2 linked regions of the Homo sapiens genome follow. The protein of the gene in region 2 purifies or fractionates together with the protein of the main gene of each other region. This does not show direct contact. Each region holds a gene or a part of one and is shown on either strand. Other genes may lie near its edges.

What was found.
Region 1: the proteins of CHP1 (region 2) and AGPAT2 purify together in Homo sapiens (co-immunoprecipitation; one large-scale study listed by IntAct). This does not show direct contact.

The regions. Positions count from the first base shown.
Region 1 is NC_000009.12:136,684,519-136,688,881, forward strand, and holds the start of AGPAT2 (1-acyl-sn-glycerol-3-phosphate acyltransferase beta), read right to left. Parts: upstream 2,940-4,363; 5' UTR 2,840-2,939; coding exon 2,658-2,839; intron 1,679-2,657; exon of another isoform or gene 1,560-1,678; intron 1-1,559. UniProt on the Homo sapiens protein: Converts 1-acyl-sn-glycerol-3-phosphate (lysophosphatidic acid or LPA) into 1,2-diacyl-sn-glycerol-3-phosphate (phosphatidic acid or PA) by incorporating an acyl moiety at the sn-2 position of the glycerol backbone.
Region 2 is NC_000015.10:41,262,170-41,265,972, reverse strand, and holds part of CHP1 (calcineurin B homologous protein 1), read right to left. Parts: intron 3,218-3,803; coding exon 3,090-3,217; intron 1,809-3,089; coding exon of another isoform or gene 1,786-1,808; exon of another isoform or gene 1-1,785. UniProt on the Homo sapiens protein: Calcium-binding protein involved in different processes such as regulation of vesicular trafficking, plasma membrane Na(+)/H(+) exchanger and gene transcription. Involved in the constitutive exocytic membrane traffic.

The sequences.
Region 1 (4,363 bases), on a different chromosome or scaffold from region 2:
GACGGTGGGGGTCTCTTGGGTGCCGCCTGGAACCCCGTGGGGAGGGGCTGGGCCTCAGCCAGGGCAGCCATTGCTCAGGGGCAAGATGGAGCGCCCCTCCCAGAGCTCAGGCCTGCCGCAGGGCTGCCTCACCAGCCCCAAGCGCTGGGCTGGGAACAAGGGGAAAGGGAAAAGCAGGTACTCTGGAGTCACTGTCAGTGGGTTCGAACCCCAGTTCCACCCCATCCTGGCTTGGGGACCCTGCCCCAGTTTCAAGTTGCTTATCTCAGCCTCAGTGTCCTTATTTGTAACACAGAGCACACGCGAATCCCTGTTCCTGAGGCTGGAGGCACCCGTGGCGTACAGCAGGAACAGAGGCCGAGTATCCCCTCCTTCCCTTCCAGCCCCCCGGGTCCCTTCCCTGGAGTGACAAAGCGCCTGCTCTTCATCTGCCTTTCTCACCCCTCCCGACGGCCCCCACGGAGGGAACGCACGTTCGCAACAGCCCCACTCTTAGCCATTGCTGGGAGTCTTGGAAGTCATCAGGGACCCTGGGGCCTGGGGAGCACGTGCAGAGGTGTGGGGGAAGGTAGCCATGGAGCCCCAGGCCTCTCCTCCAGACTGCCCTGCCCTCTGGCCCTCCCTTCTCTTCAGGGACCAAAGCAGGAACAAAGCACCTGCTGTTAGTAGCCAGTGTCCCGGAAGCCACTACTCCACAGGCCTGAGCCTGGGTGCTGCCCTGGAGAGGTGAGGGCGGCAGGAGGGTCCCATCCAAGCACCATCAGAGGCCCCAGGTCCCGAGGACACCCAGGTTAGCCAGAATCTCCAAGCTGAGATGGGGACAGGGCCCAGTGGGGCAGCAGGGCCAGTGCCAGCCAACCCAGCCTGCCAGGTCCATAGAAAGGGCAGCAGGTGAACTGTGATTTGGTCCCTGGAAAACAGCTAGGAAGTCCAGGCAGAGGCCCCTGCAGAACAAGCCAGGCTTTCTCACACGAGGAGGCCGCCGATGAAGAGGCCCGTGGCCTGTGGCCTGGCTCAGTAGTGGGGTCTGCTCCAGGGTCTCCTAAGTCAGGTGCCCCATCATTTCTGCCAAAAGAACAGGACCCCGTCCCCTGTCCACACCCCAGGACACGCCCAGCACAGGATGCCCTGCAGGCATCAGAACCACACAAGCCATTTCCTCGGGGTGGGGGGCACCCCAAGGAACCCACAGACTGGCCCCTCCTCAGCTGGGAAAGCCGCACCCTCGCCCCTACTCTGAAGCACCCCAGGGGCTGAGGGGGGCCCCTCACAGAGACCCCTGCCTACAGGGGATCCCAGGGCCAGAACCACAGGTGAGGCCTTCACAGATTCCAGCACAGGTGCCCAGAGCCCAGCCCCCAGGAACTCCCTGTTTCTGCAAACTGCCTTCCTCGCTGAAGGGTGCTCCACTGGGGACGTCAGCGCCAGTCACCACCTGGGCCAGCCCTGGAGTGTGCGCTCCCCGGGACCCCGGCCTGGGCCACCTGGCCCACATCACCACTGGTCACACACGTCTGGCTGAGCAGCCAGCAGGCCCTTCTCGGACTCTCCATGCTCACCATCAGGCCCAGGGTCCTCCTTCATATTCCTGGAGCTTCTGGGGCTCCGTTGGAAGCCATGACTGTAGGCCCGTTCCAGCAGCCTCAGTGCCCTCCCAGGGCTGGCAAGGACAGCGAGTGCAGGGAGCTAGCAAACCCTCACCCACTGCCCCTGGAACCACGGGGAAGGGGGCCTCTGGGGCCACAATGCCCCCACCCCAGGCCATTGCAAAAGCCACTGGCTGGGCAGTCCAAACAGGGCAGGGAGAAATGTAGCAACAGCCTGGGGACGGCTAACAGGGAGAGGGGGCAGGCAAGAGCCTTCTCCAGCAGCCACCCCGCCCAGGAGCAGGCAGCCCCCGCCGTCTTTGGCAGCCCAGTCTGACCTCTGGCCCCCAACCCCAGCCTGGCAAAACCAAGCTCCCACCTTCTGGAAGGCGTCCAGGGGAAAATTTCAGCCCCGCCGAACCCTAGTCCTAACTCTTCCTTCCCTTCGCTTGGAAGCTGGGCCCCCGGAGCTGTAGGCCAGGGGCGCGCTCCCCAGCACGGAAGCAGGTCCCCTCCGGGTCCCCCACCTCCCTGCGAAGAGGAAAGGGAGAGAAAGGGGAACCCGCCCCACAGGTGCGCCCATCACCGGGCGGACAGTCAGGAGGGGGTCGGAGGGAGGCCGAGGGGTGCCCCCACGCCGTCGTGCGCCCTGATCAATAGCCCTGGGGCAAGTCCCCGCCGCCCCGGCCTCGGTTTCCCCGCTCAGGAAGCAGGGCTGAGCCTCTCCCAGCGCGGACCGGCCCCCTTTCTCTCCGAAAGCTGCTCCACCCCCGGAACCCCACGCCGGGCTGCAGGGACGCGGCGGAGGCCGAAACCGGTGTAGACGCCCGGGGCCAGGGCGGGGGGTGGGGTGCTGGGCACTGTGACGCCGGCTCCTTGACCCCGTGACTCCGGGACCCCCTGACTCCGGGACCCCCTCCTGTGCCTGCCGCCGGCCCAGGCGCGCTCTCCCCGGAGCCCCGGAGCGGGGCGGGACGGGCGGGGCAGGAAGGAGGGAAGCCCAGAAGAAAGTTAGGGAAGCGGAAGCGGCGCGGCGGTTCCCCGGCCCCTCCCGGCGGCCCCCGGCCTTGCCTCATGTTCTCCACCGTCCGGCCGCCGTGGCGCAGCAGGCAGACGAGCGAGGCCACGGCGGACACCGTGAAGCACAGCGCGCAGTACAGGGCGACCTTGGCGTAGAACTCGGCCGCGCGGCTCAGCTGCACCAGCAGCAGCAGCAACAGCAGCGCCGCGGCCAGACACGGCCACAGCTCCATGGCCCGGCCCGGCGCCCGACGGCGCCGCCAGCTCGCTCCCGCTCCCGCTCCCGCTTCTCCCCCGCGCGCTCAGGCCCCTTATTGCGAGGGCGGCGGGGCTGGGCGGGGCGGGGCGCGGCGTGGGGGAGGAGCGCGCGGCAGGGAAGGGCTAGGTGCGGCGCCCCGCCCCGACACTGTCCCCAACAACGCCCCGACACGGTCCCCTCACCAGGCCCCGCCCCGCCACTGTCCCCAACCCCGCCCCGACACGGCCCCCCCTTCCCGCCCTGGGTCACCCGGCCCGGACCTCCCCTCCACGCTCCCTCCCCACAGCCTTCTGCCAGGTTACCGAGGCTCTGGCGCTCTGCTCCCACCCTCCCGGTCCCAGGGGACCCCCCCATCATGGCTTGCCGGTGGCTCGGGCTCTGGCGCTGCCCCCCATGGTCTGGGCCTCCTGCCCCGCCCGGTGCCCCCTCCCCCCGCTGCCGGGGCAGCCACAGGCTCCCGCGCGCAGAACCACAGCTCCCCAAGGGCGTAAAACCAGCGGGGATGCGCCCGTGCCAGGCCGGTGGCCACGCAAAGGGCCGCCGGAACCGCCCCCGAGTGACCAGTGGCCACCTGGCAGAAAGCCTGGCTCTTAGGGTGTTCTCGGTCCCCTGCGGGGAGACTCGTGGGGGCGCGCAGGCCAACTGGGGCGTGTGTCTGGGCGGGGCTGGGTTGCCCCACCCTGGGTGCCAGAAGTAGCCTTGTCACCAGGGACGCTCCGGGGGCAGGCGAGGTGGGTGTCAGGTGGCGGCGTTCACATCCGCTTGGCAGCACGGCCAGCGTGGCAGGGCAAGGTGCAGCTGGGACAAGGGCAGCAGTCACCTGGCCCGGCCCCCACCCGGCGTCCCACCTCAGGGAGCAGATGGAGATTGAAAAGCAGTTTCCTGGGGTCCCTCCTCATAGGGACTCTTGGGTTTGCTGCAGTTGCGGGAGTGCTGGCCGCCCTGCGCTCTAACGGGTCAGCAGGGGAGCACGGCCCCTCTTTTTTCAGATGCAGAGTTGAGCTGTTAAAACATTTCCCTGAACATTGTAACCACCCCCCAAACTGTACTGAGAGAATGACAAATACAGAAACTGCTCTTCAAATGAATGGGGAACTGCGGTCCTGAAGGACGTGGGGTCTCGCTGCCTGGGCTCAGCAGCCCCTGCCCAGGCGGTCCCAGCTTTTCTTGAAAGTGGAGACACATCCTTTTGCCTTAGGCCTGTAGGCATCTTACAGCGAAACCCAGGAGAGCATTTTCCAGCCCAGTCTCCTTCCAGATCCATATGGGCTTCATCTGGAATCAGCTTGGAGGGCCTGGCTTGACCTCTTTCCACGCTTGGAGCCGGAACTGCACACCCCGCAGCCGGGAGGTCTGAGAGCTGCACTGCTGTGCCTCTGAGAGGCTGAGAGGTGGCTGCTGACGGCTGCGGGGTTTTCATCTTCCAGGGCAGATGAGGTGGGTGCACCCTGCAGACAGGAGTGCCGCTGCCGGGAGCTGGGGGATGCGGGGGTGTGGG
Region 2 (3,803 bases):
TCCAAAGAGGAAAGCAATAAGGTACCACTTCCAGGAGACAAACAGAAGAGCAGAGTGGCACTATGTGTGCTTGGGCCTGTGCCTACATGGGCATAGTTCAGCCTTGCTGATCGTGATTAAAATTCTCTCACCGTGGCTTAGAAAAGAAATAGAACAAAGTGTGTTCTCAGAGTTCCTGAAGACAGTATTCTATGCAAAGTATAACCCATAATAAAATTTGGTTCCACTCCTCTGTAAACCCACATTTCTTTTTTTTTTTTTTGAGATGGAGTTTTGCTCTGTTGCCCAGGCTGGAGAGTAATGGTGCAATCTCGGCTAACTGCAACCTCTGCCCCCCAGGTTCAAAGTATTCTCCTGTCTCAGCCTCCCGAGTACCTGAGATTACAGGCGCCCGCCACCACGCCCAGCTAATTTTTTGTATTTTTAGTACAGACAGGGTTTCACCATGTTGGCCAGGCTGGTCTTGAACCCCTGATCTCAAGTGATCCACCCGCCTTGGCCTCCCAAAGTGCTGGGATTACAGGCGTGAGCCATCATGCCTGGCCTGTAAACCCAGATTTCTAAGTAACACATCTCCTTTTTTTTTTTTTTTTTTTTTTTTTTTTTTTTGAGACAGAGTCTCGCTCTATCACCCAGGCTGGAGTGCAATGGCATGATCTCGGCTCACTGTAGCCTCCACCTCCCAGGTTCAAGCAATTCTCCCGCCTCAGCCTCCTGAGTAGCTGGGATTACAGGCATCCACCATTATGCCTGGCTAATTTTTTTTGTATTTTTGTAGAAATGGGGTTTCACTATGTTGGCCAGACTTGTCTCGAACTCCTGACCTCAGGTGATCCGCCTGCCTCAGCCTCCCAAAGTGCTGGGATTACAGGCGTGAGCCACCGCACCTGGCCCACATCCCCTTTCTCTAAGGTAAATGTGTCTCAGTGGCAAATGTATTGCTAGGTATATGACATTCAATTGCTCTCAGTCTACAGTAAGAGGCACCATGCTACAGCTTATACAGCCCTGTGGGAACTTCAAAGAGAAGCAACACATTTAGACAGAAATTGAGGACTTCTCGGACTCTTCTAGTCTTTTCTTTGGCATTAGAATAGCTTCGGTTTTACTGGTCTAATTACATGAATGTGATCCCTATACATAGACTGCAACAGAATTCTAATTAATTTTTAGCTTCCTATAAAAGTTAATCCAACAGCCAAGACTAAAGTATGTAATGAAAAAAACAGGCTGGGTATGGAGGCTCATGCCTGTAATCCCAGCACTTTGGGAGGCCAAGGTGGGATGACTGCTTGCGTCCAAGATTTCGAGACCAGTCTGGGCAACATAGTGAGACCCTGTCCCTACAAAAAATTAGAAAATAAAAAATTAGCTGGGTGTAGTGCACACGCCTGTGGTCCCAGCAACTTGAGAGGCTGAGGCAAAAAGATCACTTGAGCCAGGAAAGTCAAGGCCATAGTGAGCTGTGATCACGCCACTGCACTCAGCCTGGGTGACAGAGTGAGACCCTATCTCAAAAAATTAAGCAAAAACAAAATAAAACCAAGCATAACCTGCATAGCACTTTGTTATTATTCTATCTCATCCTGAAGTCTGCCATTTCTGTGGCATTCCAACCTTTTTCCTTAGCAGAACCCCAATCACAGCATCAGGAGGGGAATCTCATTAGCCTAATCTCCTCGGCACTCGCACTCTCCTGACCTGAACTGACTTATCAAAGTGAGGGGAAGGACTTACATTCCATGCTTGGGAGGAGTGTTGCTCAATTTCAGTCTCGATCTCTCTCTATATATATCTCTCTTCCTCTACTGCCAGATGTGAACAAGAAAAAAAAAAGCCCTGTTAACAACTGAGAGCTGCCATGTGACCATAATACTTTAGGATAAAACAGACTATGAGGATGGCAGAGTAAAGAGAAAAATCCCTAGTTCTTGAAACAGAATCAACCCTCCTGCCGGCCTAATCTGACTTGTAAAGTGAGCTAATATAGTTCCCTATTGTTTAAGCCAGCTGAGTCAGCTAAAGGTATCCTAAGACACCATGTAACGCCCAAATCCACTAGTGCTATTTCGAAGATTTTGTTTTGTTTTCTTTTCTTTGTTGAGACAGAGTTTCTGTCACCTGGGCTGAAGTGCAGTGGTGCCATCAAGGTTCATTGCAGCCTCAACCTCTCAGGCTCAAGCAATTCTCCCACCTCAGCCTCCCAAGTACCTGGGAGCACAGGTGCCTGCCACCACACCTGGCTAATTTTTGTATTTTTATTAGAGACAATGTTTCACCATGTTGCCCAGGCTGGTCTCAAACTCCTGGGCTCAAGTGATCTACCTACCTTGGCCTCCCAAAGTGCTGGGATTACAGGCATGAGCCACTGCGCCCAGCCTTCAGTCAGTTTTAATACAACTGTAATTTCAACTTGTACTGAATAAAAAGATAAATTTAATTTCAATTTCCTGGAGAAGTGTTGTAAGGGATTGGGCAATATTGTACATGAACCAATAAGGGCAGAAGGGAAGGCAAACAAGTATTAAAGGAAAAGAGGCATGAGACACGGGTATAAAAATTAAATCTTGCACTGTATCCAGCTGTCCCCCATTACTTAAGTCACATCCAGTGTCTATCAAATTCTAAGATGAGCTGAGGATTGCCATTATTCCTTAAAGGTGGGGCCTGGGTCTTGTTCACTATTGCCATGCTAGCACTTAACACAGTGCCTGGCACACGGTAGGTGCTCAATGAATTATAATGATACTAGGTAACACTTATTAAGTACCTAGTATATGCCAGGCACTATGTGAAGCACTTGACATTTATTAACTCATTTAATCCTCACAACAATCCAATGTGGAACCCCTTAGTATCCTATTTTACAGAAGAGAAAACTGAAGCCCAAAGAGGTTAAGTACCTTGCCCAAAGTCACACGACCAAAAAAGGGTAGACTAGTATTTAATCTTGGCCAGTTTAGCTCCAGAGTCTGAGGTCTTAACCAGTATGCTCTTGTAGATGCTTGTTCAAATAATGAGTGAGTAAATACATGACTTTTAAGAAATGAAAAGCAAGTATTTTAAGCCAGAAGACTTTAGCTCCTTACAGTGCAGTTTGTTGCTTCGGCTGTTGAGTGGTTCGGGTCCATTCACATCTTTGCTCTTTTCATTATCCTCAATGGGGCGGAAATGAGCCAAAGTTCGCATGAATCCACGGAAGTTTACCTGGTCCTCTCTGATTGTGAAATATAACAAACACAACACCATGTCAATCACGGTGATTATTTCTTATGAATTAAATATACTGGCAACAGCTTTAGCTACGGTAGCCTGAAAGGTCATTTAATGAGGTTTCTTTCCATACGCATGGTACTTTGGGACTCACAGTACCATATCATTTAAGCCTCACCCCAACCTTGTAAGGCAGGTGCTATTACTCCCACTTTATAAATGATTTAACCAGATTTAGGTAACAGGACTTACCAGGGATAAAGTTATCTATTGAATTTACTTGCATCTGTTTTCCAAAAAATGAATGTAGAGTAGTGCCAGCACTATACAAGACAGCCAGAACTTGAACTCATTGCTTTGAACTCTGCAGCGAGCCACAGGCAGCCCAATGACTCCTCAGCCACCTCCCACATCTCCCCCATCTCCCCTGCAGTAATGTATACCAAGGGATATTTTAAAATTAAGGCACATTATGGAAAGGCCGCTTTTAAAATAAAGTTTATTTAATTTTTAATTTTTCTTATTTATTTATTTATTTTGAGACAGAGTCTTGCTCTGCTTATAAATAAATAAAGTCTTGCTTTATTTAT